Linked DNA regions of Homo sapiens. The protein of the gene in region 3 interacts with the protein of the main gene of each other region in a biochemical or structural test. Each region holds a gene or a part of one and is shown on either strand. Other genes may lie near its edges.

Region 1 (7,030 bases), on a different chromosome or scaffold from region 3:
GTAGGGTTCAACAAGTTGAAGGTGCCATATAGTATTTGGTCACTAGTAAAGAAGAAAGTAAATTGGAACTTTACATTAATTGTAGATATTTGCATGAAAATACAGTATTCATCATAAGGAAAATTATGTATTCAGGATAAATTTATGCAAATTTAATTGAGGAAATAAGACCCTTACTTGGATTACAAACTAATAGGAACAACTTCTTTTACTCCAGATGCCAAAATGCTTGCAAGTGATTTAAAAAAAAAACACCAACATTCAATTGCTTCAATTGGAACTTTGGCAGTGTACTTGATACCACAGTGTTGTGTTTTTTCTGCCAGTGGTAGTTTTTTCCATTTGTGGCCTTCACAAAAACATGGAAAGCCCTTTAGTATGTGTATGAAAGAAAGAATTTTCTTCCTCCTCTGAAATACCATCTTACTGTGGAGTGATTCAGATATCCATGGACTCCAAGATCTTTTAAGTTTCATACCAGCCTGCTTATGTTACTTTGACCACATGCATCTGAACTGGAAAGGTGCCAACTAGTTTTCCTCAAACCATAGTAAGGATTAACAAAATAATCCAGCCTTTTCACCTGTAAGAAGTATTTGTGCAAAATAATTTAGTAAGTGGGTTGTGGGATTTTAATGGCAAAAATGTTCAGAATAAATTGTTTTATAATTGAAAGTATTTAATAAACAACAAGCCTTGTTAAAAGGCTTTTCAGTCTAACCTATTTTGTTTAAGATTCTGGAAGGCTTGGTTTGGTAAAGTAGTTGATGCCTTACATTTATATAACATTTTAGCATTTTAAAATTATTTTACCTTAAAAATTTTCTTAAATTATAAAACAGTATTGTTCATACCAAGTGAAACAATCCAAAGATATGTAACCCTTAATCCCTGTGTATCTCCTGCTTTTTCACACCTAGTAAGTAAGGGTAATACTGTTGTTTGATAATCCATGGCTCATTGTATTTTTACAAACATCCTATTCATTGGGTCATCCCTGAACTTTTTGCAAGGTCAGTATTCCCATTTTATTGATGAGAAAGTTGAGGCCTAAAAAGAATAGTTTCTGGCCTGTGATTACTTATCTGGATGATGTTGCAGCTGACACTGGGACCTAGGTCAAATGATTTCAGTATTTGTGCTGTTAACTGTTTTATGTAAATTTGAAGCAGTGTGATAGAGTTGGGTCTCTGGGGTTAGTCCTGGGTCAAAGGTAAATTTTTAATCTTTCTAAGTCGTTTTCCTTATCTGTAAAATGGGGATAATACAAATCTCCCCAGGCCTGTGGGGATTAAGGGGAATAATTTAAGTGCCTAAAAATAGGCAAAGAATGTTAGTTCCCATTCTCTTAAATATTTGAAAATCCAGATTAAAAATATTTTTAAATGAAGGATTATTAATAGGATTACTTACTTAAATGGTAAACTTTCCTAGTGTATTTAAAGTGATTTTATTTATAATCAGTTTTCAGATATGATTTATGTGATCTGAAGTGCAGCTGCAACATCTTTCAGCACGAGTGTAGAAATGGAAATAGGATTAAGTCAGACTCTTTAAAACATTAAAAGCTGTGATAAGATTTTTTTACCAAGCGAAGAAATCAACCTAACCAGTAGAATTATATAGATGTGCAGTCATCTTAGGAGACAGCCGGGAAATAAATAGCAAGATAGGCTGAAACTGGCTTTGAGATTGAAGTCCCCTTCAGAAGAGGTAAAACTTTCCCAAGTAGCACTCAAGATTCTTTGTTGGTCCATTCTTAGCAACTGTGTCCCACTAGAGGTATTGAGGCCAGTAATAGTGGTGTTGATTGCAGTGCTTCCTTACCTTTAGGGGGAAAAATGTGTGTGTTTTCTAAAGTAGGTGATCTAAGGTAATTGTGGAACAAGAACACTGACATTATCTTAAGTTCTATAGCTAAACCTTTTTGTGGAGAGAAAACCGTACTACTCACTCAACTTTTAAGGTTTATAGATCTTCTCAAAGTTACTATCATTCCATCTAAACACAGTTGGGATGGCACTAGAGGAGAGTTCAAATTCATCTGAAGATGTTAAGAAAATTGTTTACAAAAGGAAATAACATTTTAGTCATTTTAGGACTATTTTCTGAGATATCTCTTCTGGAAGATTTATTTTTAAAAAATTTAAAACATTTTTAGGATATTCTTAAGAGAAATTGCTAAATAAAGTGTTCACTGCTAGTCCTCACATAAAGGAAAAACTTTTCTATTTAAACCCATTTTAACATCTTTAGAATTCCTGTTTAGGATCATCTCTTCCTCCTCTCCATTTTATTACCTTATCTGATTGTTAATTGTGGATTATTTTATGAAGTGTCTAACTGAATAAAGTGCTAATCCAATAAAATGTATTTGGTAAAATAATGCAACCATTGTAGTATGTTACTGTCATGTAAACAGTAGATTTAAATTGTCTTCCTGCATCAGTGATGACTCATTCCTTTCAACTTCAGTTTAGCCATTTTCACCTGCAAGAATAACATTTTTCTCTTGATAAAATAACAAAGATGAATTAGTCTTTAAGGAGTTATTGCTGCCTTGGATTTCAAAGACAGGTTTACTAACAGAAATAACACATTTAGATTTTTGTGTTTCATTTTTAAAAGTTAGATTTTTGTAAAAAGCTGGGGATAAAGACTAGTTTGTTTTTATGTGTTTAGCACTGTGGTTCCCAATCCTGGCTATACTTGGAGAGGTCATTTATTTTATTTTATTTTATTTTTTTTCAGACTGAGTCTCGCTGTGTCCCCAGGCTAGAGTGCAGTGGCACGATCTCTCGGCTCACTGCCACCTCTGCCTCCCAGGTTCAAGCGATTCTCTTGCATGCACCACCATGCCAAGCTAATTTTTGTATTTTTAGGAGAGATAGGGGTTTTGCCATGGCTGGTCAGGCTGGTTTTGAACTCCTGACCCCAGGTGTTCTGCCTGCCTTGGCCTCCCAAAGTTATGGGATTACAGGCGTGAGCCACTGCACCCGGCCTATACCTGGAGAGTTTAAAACAAAACAAAACAAAACAAAAAATCAATACCTGGGCACATCCCTAAGAGATTGTAAATTAATTGGCCTAAGGTAAAATCCACTTACAGTATTTTTAAAAGCTCCCAGGGTGATTCTAACGCGCAGCCAGGATTGAGAATCACCGGGTTAGCATTGTCTGTCTATTGATTTAATTCATTAATTGAGACTTCGTCCTTTTCTCTCTGATACTCATGGTTCATTACCCAGCCTATTAACATTTCCTGCCCTGGCTTCACCTCCTGCTATTTACATTTCACTCTCTTAACTTTGCTGCCCCCTATAGCTTATTAGCTGCTTTCCTGAAGGGGAGATACTGCCATTAGATTCTGGAGTTTAGGTATGATGGGATGATTCTACTGGTTTATTGTCATTACCATAATTAAAGCCCAACTATTATTTGATGTAGGGTGGTCAGTTTTCTTTTCTCTGTGATTTTTGGAGCTGGCAGGTAAAATCGAGAACATGTGATAGAGGTTTGCCTAATTTTAATCCCATCATTCAGGATAATAAGTAATGATTTCAACCACTTTGGGATGTAAAACTAGTTTCCTCTGTATGCTCACAACACTGTTCTGTTTCTTGAAGATCTAGGCCTGATACTACCATTGTATATGTTAAATACAAGATATTGAACAAAGGAACTATTCTTGAACTTTACTGCGTTTTTGGTCATGCCTTATTTTTATTTCACATTAAGAAATGTTTTTCTCCAGAGTGTTTTCGTGTCTATCATCTAACTTAATCTTGACCACAACTTTTTATCGAAGGCAGGGCAGTGAGAACTCAGGGCTGCTTATATTCCATATTCCTATTTTGTCTTTGTCTTTTCTGGTAACTGGTTTGAATAATACTTCTGTTAGTTGATTTGTTGTTTGGGTGGCTTTTCAGTTGTTATGTTGTGATGCTCTCTCTCCAGAATGAGATGGTGAATTTTTCTGTGAAAGCAGAGTCATTATCTGTTTTTTCAAATCCTGTTATGGTACCAAATACAGTATTTTGTGCATAATGTGGTCATAGAGACAGAGTCAGTGTTTTGATGAAGAAATTATATGTTGGTTGTCTTATAGTCACTCCTTCCCCTTTAGATTGTGCTGCTTTTAGTGATGTTTGGTGCTATCTACCAGATGTTGATTCTTTTCTGTTTTGTTTTTTGGTTTTCCATATTTTTTTGAGACAGGGTCTTGCTCTATCACCCAGGCTGGAGTGTAGTGGCACAATTGTAACTTACTGCAGCCTCAAACTTCTGGGCTCAGGCAATTGTCCCAAGTAGCTAGGACTACAGGTGTGTGCTGCCACACCCAGCTAAGTTTTTTATTTTTATTCTTGTACAGACAAGTTCTCGCTATGTTGTCCTGGCTGGTCTTGAACTCCTGGCCTCATGTGATCCTCCGTCTTTGGCTTCCCAAAAGCTGGGATTACAGATGTGAATCACTGCCTCACCCAGTTTTTTGGTTTTAATATATTTATGCCTAAAACTGGTTCAGGATTATTTAAAACAGGGGAATCCAAGGGAGAGAATACAATCATGGGTTCTTAGTTTCTGTTTTTGGTTGTGCCAGTAAAGCCCCTTCCTCGTCCTTCTTTTCTGCTTATCACTAGAGACAGAAACTAAAAACCATGGCTTCAGGATGCTAAAAGCCTAAAACAAAACGAAACAGAACAACAACAACAAAATAAGGTGGGTTGGACAAGCTTGATTTAAAGTAAATGAATTCTGGGTCCTTAATATCTTGGTAGTAAATAGTAAATGTAGGTTTAAAACAAAAGATTATTTGTATTTTGCCAATGACCAGTATGAGTGACATGTAACATTATTGATTGATTTGTTGCTATGAAAGTTATTGTATAAGATTTGTGAGGAAAAGTAATACTGGGTTGACTCCTAGACATGGACATGTGTGTATAAAATAACTGAAACAATTTGTTTGCAGTAATTTCTAAGTTTAAGATGCAATCTTTCTTTATAAGGATGTCCTTGAAGGAGGTAAAAGGAACAGATTTGAAATATATAATACTTTTAGTGTATTATTATGTAACAAGGAATCTAAATGCTTTGCTGAAAGAGTTTTGTATGACAGACTGGGATTATGCAAAATAAACTCTACTTCTCTGAGCAGGATGTTGACTAATAAGCAGTTTCAAGCCTAGTTTTTATATCTGTCTTTTTGAACTGTTACCTGAAGGATTTTATTTATGTGGGACTTTTAAGTAAGTAATGAAGAATTTTAGAAATCCTGTAATTTTGATTGGGTTTGCTGAAGAAACATACTGGAATTTTTTTTTTTTTGGTGGGGGTAGTCTAACTTGGATACTGAAGACAAGGGATTTCTTGGAAACACACTCCTCCTACTGGAATGGTGATGCTAATTGCCGCTACTATATAACCTTACTGTGATGTTATATCTAGTTGAGCTTTCCAGTGCTGAATGGGATCTCAGAAGTCATTCTGGTTTAGCCTCTGTTGGGAATTGATTTCACTCTTGTTATTCTAATAAATATCTTGCCATTTCATCAGAGAAGTTTTCTTTAAGGTAGGGAGGAAAGTACAGGGTTTTAAAACCCTTATTCTCTCAGGTTTTGCTTAGTTAATGAATAAACCATTTAGATAATAGCTAAAAGAGGTTGAATACCTGAAACAAGAATTTTTAAATGGCTTAGAACTTGCAGTTCAGTAGTATCAAATCTAAAATTGTATATTTTTTTTCAGCAGAACGCAGATTTTAAAAAATTGTATATTTTGTCTAATTGGTTTTGCCTTTGTTTCACATTGTATCAAGGATATTCCATAATTACAGCTATTACCATAAGTCAATGGTTATTTGAACTCATTGTTAATCCCCTGCCTCTAAATTGATAAAAGTGAAAAAGGGAAAAAGGTGAGACAGTTTTTGTTATAACTCCTGAATTTTAATTAGCAAAACTGGGTAGATTTTTAAAACAACTTTTCAGACAGGCTTTTCTGAAGAAAAATATCTATTGAAGTTAAAAGTAAAATAAGACATAACTTCTGTAGGAATGTTTCTAATTTTATTAAAACAAACAAAAACAACAACAAAAACGTGCCCTACCATTCTTCTTTAAATTGGTCAGTGGCAAAATATTTTGTTTGCTGTGAAATTAGACACACACTTTATTTTCAAAAATCTAGTACAGAAATCTTTTCCTTTCTTTGGTTTTCCATAGTGCATAAAATTTTGGTGAACCGCTGCAGAGATTAAAACTTAGTAAAGTGAAAACAATGAATGCTTTTTCTTTTAAATTTAATGTCTTTAGGAGTTTATAGTTGGTGAATACAGACTTGTAAGCAGGCAGTTGCAATTAATGTGTTCAGTGTCATGATAAGAATAAGCTCTAAAATGTTAAGGGAGTATGTGAAGGACTCAATCCCGTTTTAGTAGGGGAGGGGAGTGATCAGGGAAAGTTTCCTGGAGAAAGTGACAGGTAAACTGCCATCTAAAAGGCCAGAAGGTGTTAGGCCAAGATAGATGGGCTAAGAGGTCCACCCAAAAGACAATATATGGAGACCCAAAGGTAATTGAGCATAGCATATTTTGGGAATTACCAGCAGTTTACATAGCTGTGATCTAGAATATAGGTTACATTCTATATCTCTGTGGTATATTCTGTATCACTAGAGAAGTGGAACAGCATTTAGGGTCTAGTGCGTAATCTTGTTGCTATGTTGAAGAATGGATGTAGGCAATTTATTGCATTCATACCTGCCAGTAACATGAAGAACGTATTGGGAAATCAGAGTGAGTAACACTAGTGAGGATACTGACACAGTAATCCAGACAAGAGATAAAGGTGCTTGTCCAAGTGGGGATGGGGTGGTATCATAGGCAAAATCTGGTGAGAGGGAACAATCAACGATGATACATTTCTAACTTGGGCAACTGGATGTATGATAGCAGTTTATTGAAAGGGAAAAAAGACATTAGATTTGGGAGGAGAAGATAATGGTTCTTTGTTGGACAGGTCGAAGTGTC
Region 2 (7,030 bases), on a different chromosome or scaffold from region 3:
TGTATTTTCTTGTAGGCAGGAGAAAATCAGAGGCATCAAGATCTGGTAGAAGGGCCGGTCTGCTGTTTAACACATACCAGCAGACAGGTCCCACGTGGGAGGCACCACAGACCTTTAAGATAGGGTGAAGCCTTGATAGAAGGAGAAACAGAAGCTGCCCACTGTCTTTACTTAGAAGTGGAGAACATGGCATTCTGTATTTATTTATGTTGACTGCGCAACTTTACGTTTCTAAACCAGTCTTGTTACATGAAATTCCCTATAAAAACTCAGAACTTCAGTTGTTTAAAAAGTATTTCAATCTGCACTTCAGCAATATTATTTTAAATACCACCACTATTTTATCTGAACTTATTTTACCTATAACAACTTTTAATTTGTTGTGTTTAATATTAAAAGGGTCCATAGGAATTTATAGATTCAAGTTTCAGTATTCTTCTTCAGGTACTGAACCAAAAAAATGTACATTTAACATTAATCCAAAGTCTAAGCCTGGATATATTATTATTTGGTGGCAGGGTTCCTAAAAGATGGTCTCTTGCTCCTTCAGTGACAGCCACGTTGACAGACCACAGAGGTGCAAACACATGCACACTAAAGATTTCACAGCTACTCACAAGTGACGAGACTGACCACATCGAAGCACAGTTGTCCCTAAGAACATACAGCTCAAAAATGTTCATGTTCTCTTTAAGAATACTGAAGTATAACCATCCTCATGAAGATTACAGCTCCTTCTTACACTTGTAGGCACTGACTTACTCTGCAAGGCTGTGAAGAGAAGAATCTCAGCTCCAGTGTAGAAAAATAATACAGAATACGTGAGCACTTCCACGGGTGAGCCTGCCTCAGACCACTTCCCTCCAGACAGCATAAAGCAGATGCAGGCTGCTCTGTCAGAAATAGAACCATTCCTTGCCTCCTTGCCGTTGCAAACCCATTAACCATAAATCTGACAGGGATAAGAACAGATTTTTTCCTATTAAAGCAACTCTTTGGTCATGGACAAACTGAAAAGATTTGAAATTTTTTTTCATTAGGGTCCCGGAACAAGATTTCTTTGTTTTTAATCTTTAAAAAAATTAAGAAGAGCAGAAAAACAGTTGGTTTAATTGAAGTGGAATTTAAATCTAAATGGTCCGCCTGAGCTGAAGGGATTGAACCCTTGCCATGAGTTCCAGCTTCTGTGGAAAGGGTTGCCGCCGCCTCCTTGCTGGCTCTCTGCATCCAAAGGATCTTCTCCGTCGTCAAACTTCTTTCTCATTTCTAGAAAGAAATCAGAAAATTAAGAACCAGATAATATCTAAGGTATAGGGGCAGGGGGAATGTTTTCTTTGGGCAGAGGAGGGTGGGTGGGCTTGAGGAGCTACTTACTTTTCGGTTATCAAGAGTTGTGCCTGACATTCAAATCCAGGCTCTCCCATTCCCACCCTGAAGAAACAGACTAGAGAAATTTGCCACAAGGAGGGTGAGGTTCAGGGTTGATAATAGGTATTTATTGAGATTCAGGCCCCTAAATCTCACTCCAGAAGAAGCCACCCAAGCTTGATAACTACCCAATGAAATTATTTGGAAAAAAATAATTCAAGAGAAACTTCCAAGAGTCTACAATTCTAATGAAACAGCCAGCTCACCACCCTAATCCCCAAAATAAAGTCTGTAAGGCAATGACCTCATCAAGCATCTAATGAGCATTCTAGCACTAAGGCTCCTCAGACATGAGGGGAGCGGGGCCTCCATAACATACAACTCCAGGAGGTTCACCTTTCCCTCCCATGCAATTGGTGCCCCCACAGCGGGGCCTCTGAGCCCCGAACAGAGAGAGATCAATGCAGAGACATGGGAGAAGGCAATAAAGAGGAATATTGCAGGGATAGGAAGAAAGAGCTCATGTCCTCAGAGTCATTAGAAAAACCCTGGAAGACAACCTAGGCAAATACTATTCAGGACATAGGTATGAGCAAAGATTGCTTTTGGTGTTTCCATCATGAAATTGCAACAAAAGCAAAAATTGACAAATGAGATCTAATTAAACTAAAGAGCTTCTACACAGCAAAAGAAACTATCAACAGAGTAAACAGACAACCTACAGAATGGGAGAAAATTTTTGCAAACTATGCAACTGACAAAGGTCTACAAAGAACTTAAATGTACAAGAAAACAACCCCATTAAAAAGTGGGCAAAGGACATGAACAGACACTTCTCAAAAGAAGACATATATGCGGCCAACAATCATATGAAAAAAAGCTCAACATCACTGATCACTAGAGCAAATAATTAGATCATTATTGCAAATAAAAAATGGCTATTATTAAAAAGTAAAAAAAATAGATGCTGCCAAGGTTGTGGTGAAAAAGGAACGCTTATACACTATTGGTGGCAGTGTAAATTCATTCAGCCATTGTGGAAGACAGTGTGGCAATTCCTTAAAGAAAGAAATACCATTCAACTCAGCAATCTCATTACTGGGTATACACCCAAAAGAATATAAATTGTTCCATTATAAAGACACATGCACATATCAGTTTATTGCAGCTCTATTCACAATAGAAAAGACATGGAATCAACCTAAATGCCCATCAATGATAGACTGGATAAAGAAAATGTGGTACATCTACACCATGGAATACTATGCAGCCATAAAAAAGAATGAGATCATGTCCTCTTGCAGGGGCATGGATGGAGCTGGAGGCCACTATCCTTAGCAAACTAATGCAGGAACAGAAAACCAAATACCACATATTCTCACAAGTGGGAGCTAAATGATGAGAACTCATGGATGCATAAAGGGGAACAACACACACTGGGGCCTATTGGAGGGTGAAGGGTGGGAGGAGGGAGAGGATCAGGAATAATAACTAATGGGTTCTAGACTTAATACCTGGGTGATGAAATAATCTGTACAACAAACCCCCATAACACACATTTACCTATGTAACAAACCTGCACATGTACCCCTGAACTTACAAAAAAAAAATAAAAAGACTTAGCATATAGCTAGGTTTTTTAATAAATGGAAAATAGAGAATGCAGAAAAAAATGCAAATATAAAAATAATCCCAAGTCTCGCTTTGCTCTCTCACAGTAACTTGTCCTTTAGGGGTTCAAAGATACTTAGAGAAAAGCCAGTTTACTTCATTCTGGGAGGTTAATCTGAAGCCACATATTTAGGAGGAGGAAACCCACCAGTAAAACTGAGGGTTCTTATGCTGAGTGTTAATAACTAAGCGGGTATTGTAGGTGATCTGAAACTCAGCTTTGTTTTATAAAAGCTAATGCAGTTAGACTCAGGCCCCATATCTTTGATATCTCACAGGCAAAATTAATCTAGGGTGTTAGCACTTAGAACAGTAGTGAACTCTCCGTAGGGGTGGGGGTGATAATGGCCCCAGAGAAAGGATGCTGTGAATGGAAGGGGAAGTGAATTCAGCTATATTCACATTATGTAATTACTTAAAAATTCAGTGGAGTGGTCTGCATACATCTCAAAGAATGAGGTAACCATTTTTCAATGAGAAAAAACTATAGCCAAGATTTATTTCAAGTGAAAATTAAGTTTCAGATTGGCATACATCATGTGATTCTACTAAACATATTCCTAAATATGACACGTCTTGATATATGCATAGTAAAAAACTTTAAAGTCTTTAAAAGAAAAGATAGTTCATCCTGAACAGAAGAACAGGAGGTAAGAAAAAGGACCTGCAGCTCTTTCCTCAGTGCATGCCTCTGTGCAGGGACACCCATCCCCTTGGTTGGCTCCCTGGTACCTTAAAACGTAGCACAAAGTCCCTCTCACATAAGAAGATCCTGACTCCCAGTCTGATACACTATCACACCTGTGCACTGCACAAACTAAGAGGATTGAACTGCTTAAGGCAGGTTGTAGCCACTCAGTATTTGCTAAGTAACAGGACAGTATGTATCCAACACTACTTGATAAGGGAAGTACATTTCTGTCTCCTTTACTGGATTATAAATTACTTGAAAACGAAGGATCATTTACTTTCAATTCCACTGCAAGTACATTTCTGTCTCCTTTACTGGATTATAAATTACTTGAAAACAAAGGATCATTTACTTTCAATTCCACTGCATAAGTAAGTACTCAAAAAAGATTTGACAAACATAAAACTTTCCTCTCTTTTGTTTGTTTAGCTCAGATCACAGCTGCTGTTCCCACTGACATGGAAGGCCACAAAAAAGCAGTATAAGCTTAACATGAAATTCTCTGGCAGCAGCAAAGCATTGTTCAGTATTACCTCAATGCTTAGCCTGTCTCCCTCTTAACGAAATTTCCAGGCCATATTACTGTATGGCAAAAGAACACATGTGGCCAGGTGCAGAGGCTCACACCTGTAATCTCAGAACTTTGGGAAGATCACTTTAGCCCAGGAGTTAAAGACCAGCCTGGGCAACACAGTGAGATCCCATTTCTACAAAAAATAAAAATTAAAAAAAAAAAAAACACATATAAGCCTGTGAATCTAATGATCCTATGATTCAGGGCAAGATTCCTGGTGAACACATATGGGGCAAAGCAGGCCCTAGGCCAGACAGCTGTTCTTCTCCCACTCCATGTAATCCAGCCTGGCAAGCTGGTTTCCTCATCAAGCTCCTGTAAGCTTGGTGGAGAAAATTCATCATTGACCTTTGAGGTTAGAGGGAACCTGAGAGATCCTCTTATGCTCAGTGTTGAAAAAACTGAGACCAAAAAGTTCTGATAACTTCTTTGAGTAGAAAAAAGATTCAAATTCAGGCCCTCTGATTCCACATTTGATAGTCTTTCCACTGTACCCTGCAACAGGAGGGTGCCCAACATAAGAGGGCTGAATGAGGGCAGGCATAAAACTGGACCTCTGGAACTGGGCTCAGGACCCGTCACTGCCTATACAGCCCCACGTGGAGAACCCACCACATGTTCCACCCTCGCTTCTAACACCACCTCTAGGATGAGTCAAAGGAATAAAAGCTAATAATACCTGGATCAGAGAGGACTTCTTTAGCAGCTGCTATATCAATGAACTTTTTCTCAGCTTTTTTCTTTTCTTCTTCATTCTGGAAGTTATCTGGGTGCCACTGCAGTGCTAATTTTCGGTATGCTTTAATAATTTCTTGCTTTTTGGCATTTCTGAGGGGTGGTAAAATAAATAATCATTAGTGGAAAAGTGTCTAACATACTATCATAAAAATCAGAAGAGCTGATTAAGATCCTACTGGCAATTAACAAAACTGGTTTTATAAAATAGTTCCAATGGTATCACAGGCCAAAGATCTGCATACACAGTTCTGGATGATCATTAAAGCTGACATCAGGCTTCCTTGGATACTCGCTCACTAAGATTACTGAGAATAAAGCACTCCTGATCTTTAGAACTTTCCCTTTTTTAAAAAAGGTACATCAATGAATTTTTTAACTTTCTGAATTTCCAAGTTACCATAATTCAATTCTTGGTATTAAAAAATATTTGACTCTGAATGCCACTTTCAATTATGCTTCTGCATTAGCTTACTTAATAGTAAGCACAAAGATTCCAAATTTTGAAAAATTGATGGTTTACTCAGCGAACCACTGGGAGGTATATCATTTACTTAATTTCAGAATTCACCCACAGGCACTGGGAGGTGTATCATTTACTTAGTATGTACTTTTATATAAGGTAGATCTTAATTTCAGACTTAATTCTGAAAGCACTACTTTATTTTTAGGCCTAGAGAAGGCTTTTTCTTTACTCATTCCGTCTCCTCCTCCATCCCCACCAAAAGGAATCTCACTCCTACCCCTTTACCCTTCTTAAAAAATCTAGGCTTAGGACCCATTCATGCTACAGTGTCATCTTTGTTGCCAACTACTAATTCTGTTGTTGCATTATTGGTCTCTATCAAAGAAACTTGCCTATAAAATACTCAAAGTAGCTTTCTAATGTTAAAGACTGTTAAGGTTTAATCCATATGACTGAAATTACATAAGTAAAGAAAATGAATCAGAGAGGAAAAAGAGCAATGATTAGCTTTGAAACAGAGTTGATTAAAAATAGCAAAGTAAATTTTAAATTAATAATTCACCTTTTTACTCCCAAGATTTTATAATAATCTCGTTTCTGCGACTGTTTCAATAATCTTTGTGCTTTCTCTAGACCTTCTCGAATCTGCTGATCATTTTCATTGTGTTCCTGAGCAGTTTCATAATCCTGAATAGCTGTCAAAATATGTTTAAGATAATATTGTTAAGGCAAATTATAATTTATTGCCTTTTCTTATCCTGTAAAATTGATGCTAAAGTCGTCATCCCCCAACCCCTTCACTCTTTGGCCATTATTGCCAAAAACCTTAAGTGATACCCCGTTAGTAACTTTGATCAAGAATATTTAAGAGGCCGGGCACAGGGGCTCATGCCTGTGATCCCATCACTTTGGGAGGTCGAGGTGGGCGGATCATGAGGGTCAGGAGTTCAAAACCAGCCTGGCCAACACAATGAAACCCCGTCTCTACTAAAAAAAAAAACACAAAAATTAGCCGGGCATGGTGGTGCACGCCTGTAGTCCCAGCTACTCGGGAGGCTGAGGCAGGAAAACCGCTTGAACTTGGGAGGCGGAGGTTTGCAGTGGCCGACATCGCACCACTGCACTCCAGCCTGGGTGACAGAGTGAGATTCCGTCTCAAAAAAAAAAAAAAAAAAAAAAAAGGTTTAAAAGGCATAATAATGAAAACTGAGTTTAGGTAGTTTATTATTCTCATTCAACAAAATGTACTGCTGTTTACTTGCCCACCCTCCCGCATTATCTCCCCATACCCTCTGGGTAAATATGTTAATATCAGCACTTTATCCAGAGCAATCTTACCACCATTAAGACTAAGTGGTTGTTACACAGGAAAGAAAGACAGTGATAAAGAAAATCGGCCTGGTCAGCTATGGATTGACAACAGTCCAGAAGAATTAGACATTTAGAAAGGGATCAGGAGGTGGGTTTGGCCAATGGGAAGCTAGAAAAAAAAAATTTGTAGAAAGAAAGGGAACAGAAGGAACTG
Region 3 (7,030 bases):
CAAGTGATGGTGAGGATGTGGAGAAATTAGAACCCTCGTGCATTGCTGGTGGAAATGTAACATGGGTGTAACCACTGTGGAAAACAATTTGGTGATTCATCACAAAGTTAAACAGAATTATCATGTGATTCAATTCCACTTATATACCACAAATATTCAGAAGTAGGGACTTAAACAGATATATGTATACCAGTGTTCACAGCAGCATGATTCAAGATGGCCAAAAGGTTGAAATAACCAGTGTCCATTCATAAATGAATGCATGAACAAAATATGGTATATATACACAACGGAATATTATTCAGCCTTAAAAAGGAAAGGAATTCTGACATATGCTACAACATAGATGAACCTTGAAGACATTTTGCTAAGTGAAATAACCAGACACAAAAGGACAAATACTGTTTGATTCCACTTATATGAGGTACCTAGAACAGGCAAATTTACAGAGACAGAAGAGAGATTAGAAAATATAAAAAATTAACCAGGCATGCCCACGCCTATGGTCCCAGCTACTCGGGAGGCTGAGGTGGGAGGATCGCTTGAGCCCAGAGTTCAAGGCTGCAGTAAGCTGTGATCACACCACTGCACTCCAGCCTGGGCAACAGAGCGAGACCCTGTCTCAAAAAAAAAAAAAAAAAAAAAGATTAGCAGAGACTGAAAGGACTGGGAAATGGGGAGTTACTGTTTAATGGGTACACACTTTCTGTTTGGAAAGATTAAGAGTTGTGGATGTGGATGTGGTGGCGGCTACACAACATTGTGAATGTACTTAAAGGCAGGGAATTAATACATTGAAAAATAGTACATTTCATGTTATGTGTATTTTATCACAATTTTAAAACATAAAAAAAAAAATCACAATGGTTGCAGGGTAGAGAAGGAATTGAAGTAGCTGTCGGAACTGGTTCTGAGATTCTCACAGCAATCCAGGAATGAGGTGGTGTTGGCTTGAACTAGGATGGTAAGTGTAGACATCTTTGAGAAGTAGAAAGATTTTGGTGACAGGACTTAGTTATAGATTAGAAGGCAGGGAGAGGAAATGTCAAGGATGCCTCCCAGATTGATGGCTTTCAGACTTGGATAGATGGTGGACTCATTTCCTGTGAAAGGAAACTTCAAACCAGCTTGGGAGAAGATCATACATGCAGTACAGGATATTTTGAGTTTAAAGTTCGTTCAAGATGTTCAAGTGGAGAATTTGGATAGAGAGATCTGAAACTCAGAGCGGTTCATAAGGAATATGTAAACTTTAGAGGTAATGGCGTATAGATGATCACTGAAATCATGGACGTGAAAGAAATCACCTTAAGGAGAAAGTATAGAGTGAAGAGAAGAGGATTGTTGGGCCATGCCAGCATTTAGAGCTACAAAGATTAAGGTGTGTTAAAAAGAGTGGCCCGGCCAGGCGTGGTGGCCCACACCTGTAATCCCAGCACTTTGGGAGGCTGAGGCTGGTGGATCACTGGAGTTCAGGAGTTGGAGACCAGCCTGGCCAACACCGGGAAACCTCAAAAATACAAAAATTAGCTGGGCGTGGTGGTGGGCACCTGTAGTCCCATAGTCCCAGCTACTTGAGAGGCTGTGGCAGGAAAATTGCTTGAACCTGGGAGGCAGATGCTGCAGTGAGCTGAGATCATGTTACTGCACTCCAGCCTGGGCAACAGAGTGAGGCCCTGTCTCAAAAACAAAAAACAGAAAGAGTGGCCCTGGAAGAAAGAAGATCAAAAGAGCTTTCCAAGAAGAATTAAGAGGTTTACAGGATCTGATTTCTGCCTTTATGGATTTACCGATTCTGGAAGTTTCATATAAATGGGAATCATACAATATGTGTGAAATTTTATGTCTGGATTTTTCATTTTGCATAATGTTTTTGAGGTTTATCCATGTTTTTGTTGTTGTGGTTGTTGTTTTTTGAGATGGAGTCTTCGCTCTGTCGCGCAGGCTGGAGTGCAGTGGCGCGATCTCAGCTCACTGCAAGCTCCGCCTGCCGGGTTCACGCCATTCTCCTGCCTCAGCCTCGCGAGTAGCTGGGACTACAGGCGCGCGCCACCGCGCCCGGCTAATTTTTTGTATTTTTAGTGGAGACGAGGTTTCACCGTGGTCTCGATCTCCTGACCTCGTGATCCGCCCGCCTCGGCCTCCCAGAGTGTTGGGAGTACAGGCATGAGCCACGGCGCCTGGCCTATCCATGTTGTAGCATGTATCAGTACTTCATTTTTTTTGTGACTGAATAATATTCCGCTGTGTAGATATATTTCACATTTTGTTCACCATTTATCCGTTGATGGACACTTGGTTTGTTTCCACCTTTTGGCTATTGTTAACAGTGCTGCTATGTACATTCCTGTCTAAGTCTTTGTTTGGAAACCTGTTTTCCAATTCTTTGAAATATCTAGGAATGGAATTGCTGAGTTTTATGATAATTCAAAGTTTACCTTCTAGAGGAACCCCAGCAACCGTATTGTTTTACATTCTTATCAGCAGTGTTTGAGGGGTCCAGTTTCTCCATGTCCTCACCAACACTTATTTTTTATTATTTCCTGATTATTATTATTATTGCCATACTAGTGGGTGTGAAATTGTATTTAGTTGTGGTTTTGAATTCCATTTCTTTAATGACTCATGATGTTGAGTATCTTTTCATGTGCTTATTGGCGATTTACATATTTTCTTTGGAGAGATGTCTGTTCAAGCCCCTTTGCCTATTTTTTTAATTGGGTGGTTTGTCTTTTTGTTGTTGAGCTGTAAGAATTCTTTATATATCTGGTTACTAGACCCTCATCAGATATATGATTTGTAAATATTCTATTCTGTAGATTGTCATTTTATTTTCTTCATAGTGTCCTTTGATACACAAACGTTTTAAATTTTGATGAAGCCCAATTTATCTCTGTTTTCTTTTGTTGCTTGTGCTCTTGCTGTCATAGCTAAAATTTTATCACCAAATCCAAAGTCATGAAGATCTCCCCCATATTTTCTTCTAAGAGTTTTATAGTTTTCGCTTGTACATTTATATTTTATATCCTCTAAATTTTGTTTATAATTTAAATCATTGCTATAGACTTGGTCCAGTGAGACCTATAAACAGAGGTCTTAATTTACTCAGTGGTTAAATTGTCCTAAAATTGATTTCTGCAAAATTCAGAGGGGAGATTTTTGGGATTTCATAGAGAAATCTATATCCATACAGTTAAATCCTTCATGATTTCATACACTTCACTTTTTTAAAGTATTAAAACTTTTTTATTTGAAGAATACGTGGGGAGAAGAGAAATATATTTCAGCACTTAGATATGTAGATTATTTCCAAAATAGTTTACCACTCAACTAGTCACTTCTGTGTAAATCAGTTTTCCCTGAAGCAAGCATTGTGTTGTTCCCGGCTACAAGCGGTCCTCATTTTGCATGGTACTGTGGGACCATAAAAATGGCCATGCAAAGCAATCTTAATAATCAATGGGGAAAATGATGATTGTTCCATGACCTTTAAAATTCTGCTAAAATATTAAAACTCTTAAGGTCAGTTATAAATGTAGAAAAAAATGCAAAAAAAATTTAAAAATATTTAGTACACTGTAATTTAAAACATTAAAAATAGAATTAAAGTGTTTTATTTCATTGTGAAAACTAAGTAGTTTGAATAGGGATTGCCTTTTTTTTCTGCCAAGTGACTTATGATACTGAGTAAGCATCTTTTCTATTCATGGCAAACTGTCATACTCCTTTTAAGTTTGGGTGAGCTTCCAGCCTTTTATTGCTTGTGCTTTCAATGTTGTGAAGTATTTCTGTATTCACATTAAATGCTCTTTAGTGTGAAGTTTGTTTTTTTTTTTTTTTTACCGTCACTTCCTCTGGGACATATTTATCTTTATTGCAATCACTTTTCTTATTTGTGTTGATAAGTTTGCCTTCACTAAGCTCCTATGAATGCACAGCAGGAAGAACATTCCCATGATCAGTGACTTCTTCTACAAATCCATTTATGTTTGATTCAAATTTCACTTCCAGTGTTATCATTTTTCGTTGCTTTGTTGGACTTTCATCTTTGTTGGCCAGTTCTTTCGATTGTTCACTTCTATAAAATGTCAGGTGGAGGACAAAGAGACAGTGTAACTACGTGCTCTGCTGTGAGTGAACTGATTAACAGATGCACAGGGACCAACCACTGGAAGAATTTGAAACAAGTAACACGACTGGTCACTGATCATGAAGCATATCTGTTATTTACATCGTGATTTGTAGACTGAAGAACTAGCAGAGAAGTTTGTACTTCCTGTAATTACTCAGAGTTATACTGTGCTACCTAAAATTTTAACCTAGGTTTAAACAACACCAGTTTCCTTACCAGTTTCCTTTCCTTCCTGGTAAGGAAACTGGTATTTAAACTAAATCTAGGTCACTGAAATTTGTGCCATGGGAACCGTGCACATTGAGGACCTGCCTACACCCTACATGTTTATATTGGTCCAGGCAGGCTTAATGCTGACTACTGAGAAATAGGCTATCTGAATTTATATCAAATAGTGAATCTTAAAGCACCCAAGATGAAAAATTCGTGCACATTGAGGTGCTTTTAAAATCTTTGTCATTTGACAATCAAGCTTAAAATGTATCTTAGAGTAACCGAATTTTAGAAATAAAGACCTTTAAAGGCCCCATAGTTTGATACCACAGATTATCCAGCATGTTTATAATGAATTATTTCTCCTCCTTCAATTTCAGTTTGCTCATACTTTGTGACTTGCGGTCACAGTGGCATTCAGCTCCACACTTGGTAGAACCACAGGCACGACAAGCATAGAAACATCCTAAACAATCTTCATCGAGGCATCGAGGTCCATCCCAATAAAAATCAGGAGACCCTGGCTATCATAGACCTTAGTCTTCGCTGGTATCACTCGTCTGTCTGAACCAGCGGTTGCATTTTTTTAAGCCTTCTTTTTTCTCTTTTACCAGTTTCTGGAGCAAATTCAGTTTGCCTTCCTGGATTTGTAAATTGTAATGACCTCAAAACTTTAGCAGTTCTTCCATCTGACTCAGGTTTGCTTCTCTGGCGGTCTTCAGAATCAACATCCACACTTCCGTGATTATCTGCGTGCATTTTGGACAAAGCTTCCAACCAGGTACAAGCGGTCTTCCGAATTTTGCACTCAGAAAAGTGGCATCATCTAAGTCAATTACATGCAAATTCTGGGGGGCTAGTTTTTTGTGTATGTTAAATGGGTCACAACACGACTTCTGTAAATCCTCAAATCTGTCAATATAAATTTTTATGTGATGAAAGCAAATTGTATTGTTCCTAGAAAGTGTCCTTCCAGTTCTAAGTTGAAGTAAAAGCATGTCATTTGATGACAATTCTTGCAACATCTTAAAACCTGTGTGACAAGTATAGTAGGTTTTATGGCACTCATTTGTAGTACGAAGCTGGACTGCAACTATCGATCCATCATTGTTGATTCTAGCATATTTTCCTTGTTTTATTTTGTCTAGAGATCTAGGTCACGGGCTGATCACCCTTAGCTTGAGCTCTCCTCCGCCTGGCTTCCGGCAGGATCCACGTCCACACAGGCACACTTGCCTGCCCGTTCATTTCCCAGCCTGTCCCCATGCTACCACTCCACTTCACTTATTATATATACTCTAAATCTTTTTCTTCTCAACATAAAACATTCTACAATCCTGCAGCCTTTTTACTTTTTTAAGCAGGTAGGCAAACATGTAGTTGATACTCAGTGGAAGCACAGAGCAGAGTTAAAGAGAAGGACCCCCTTTCACTGACCAGTTGAGTTTTTTTTCTTTCCTTTATTTTTTAAAACAATTTCAAAATTGAGATGGGGTTTCGCCATGTTGCCCAGGCTGGTCTCGAACTCCTGAGCTCAGGTGATCCGCCCACCTTGGCTGGGATTATAGGCGTGAGCCACCACACCTGGCCAAGTTGAGTTTTTAAAGTAGAAAATTTTGGAGAAATTAACTTTATTGTGCAGTGAATGAGAAAGAAAGAACGGTTTTGAAAGAAAGTCTCTGCATTTATGTGAGACTGAGATGAGTCCTATAAAGGGGAGTCTCCCCAACCCCTCTGTCTCCTAAACTGCATTGGGAAACTCAGATTAAATATGTTCTGTGAGCATCACTCATTCAAATGTCTCTTCCATTGTAGGATACGGGAAGAAGAAATGGCTGGTGATCTTTCAGCAGGTTTCTTCATGGAGGAACTTAATACATACCGTCAGAAGCAGGGAGTAGTACTTAAATATCAAGAACTGCCTAATTCAGGACCTCCACATGATAGGAGGTAGGTTGCTATAAAAAATGATATGGCAGCCATAAAAAATGATGAGTTCATGTCCTTTGTAGGGACATGGATGAAGCTGGAAACCATTATTCTCAGCAAACTATCGCAAGGACAAAAAAACCAAACACCGCATGTTCTCACTCATAGGTGAGAACTGAGCAATGAGAACACATGGACACAGGAAGGGGAACATCACACACCAGGGACTGTTGTGGGGTGGGGGGAGGGGGGAGGGATAGCATTAGGAGATATACCTAATGCTAAATGACGAGTTAATGGGTGCAGCACACCAACATGGCACATGTATACATATGTAACCTGCACGTTGTGCACATGTACCCTAAAACTTAAAGTATAATAATAATAAAATTAAAAAAAAAAGAAAAAAGATATGACCTTATAAATGTAAGCTGGGGGAATGGCAACTCTGGCACAACTTTGAGGTCAACACTTTAGTTTTGTGAGAGTGCTCTTGGCATAAAGTGGGAACCATGGTGGAGCCACAGTTGACTCCAGAGAGAAAAGAGGGTAGAAACCTTTCCATGCTTCAACAAGACATGCTGCTTTACTGTTTGAGGTGACTGCTTAAATGCTATATTGAATGTAGGTTCAAACCCTCAAAGGTAGTCATAGGAGGTAGTGATGACTAGAGTACTTGTTTTTAGATAGTGCATGAGTTGTATAATATTTTATGAATATTCTCTTTGTAATCAGGTTTACATTTCAAGTTATAAT

The links.
Region 1: of the proteins of EIF2AK2 (region 3) and PPP2R5A, one has a biochemical effect on the other in vitro, tested with the Homo sapiens proteins (one study listed by BioGRID).
Region 2: the proteins of EIF2AK2 (region 3) and DNAJC3 form a complex in vitro, tested with the Homo sapiens proteins (2 studies listed by BioGRID).

Annotation. Positions count from the first base shown.
Region 1 is NC_000001.11:212,288,380-212,295,409, forward strand, and holds part of PPP2R5A (serine/threonine-protein phosphatase 2A 56 kDa regulatory subunit alpha isoform), read left to right. Parts: intron 1-7,030. UniProt on the Homo sapiens protein: The B regulatory subunit might modulate substrate selectivity and catalytic activity, and might also direct the localization of the catalytic enzyme to a particular subcellular compartment.
Region 2 is NC_000013.11:95,785,109-95,792,138, reverse strand, and holds part of DNAJC3 (dnaJ homolog subfamily C member 3 precursor), read right to left. Parts: intron 6,201-7,030; coding exon 6,068-6,200; intron 5,133-6,067; coding exon 4,984-5,132; intron 1,267-4,983; coding exon 1,109-1,266; 3' UTR 1-1,108. UniProt on the Homo sapiens protein: Involved in the unfolded protein response (UPR) during endoplasmic reticulum (ER) stress.
Region 3 is NC_000002.12:37,146,953-37,153,982, reverse strand, and holds part of EIF2AK2 (interferon-induced, double-stranded RNA-activated protein kinase), read left to right. Parts: intron 1-4,678; exon of another isoform or gene 4,679-4,959; 5' UTR 4,960-5,126; exon of another isoform or gene 5,127-5,489; intron 5,490-5,577; exon of another isoform or gene 5,578-5,611; intron 5,612-6,160; 5' UTR 6,161-6,176; coding exon 6,177-6,295; intron 6,296-7,009; coding exon 7,010-7,030.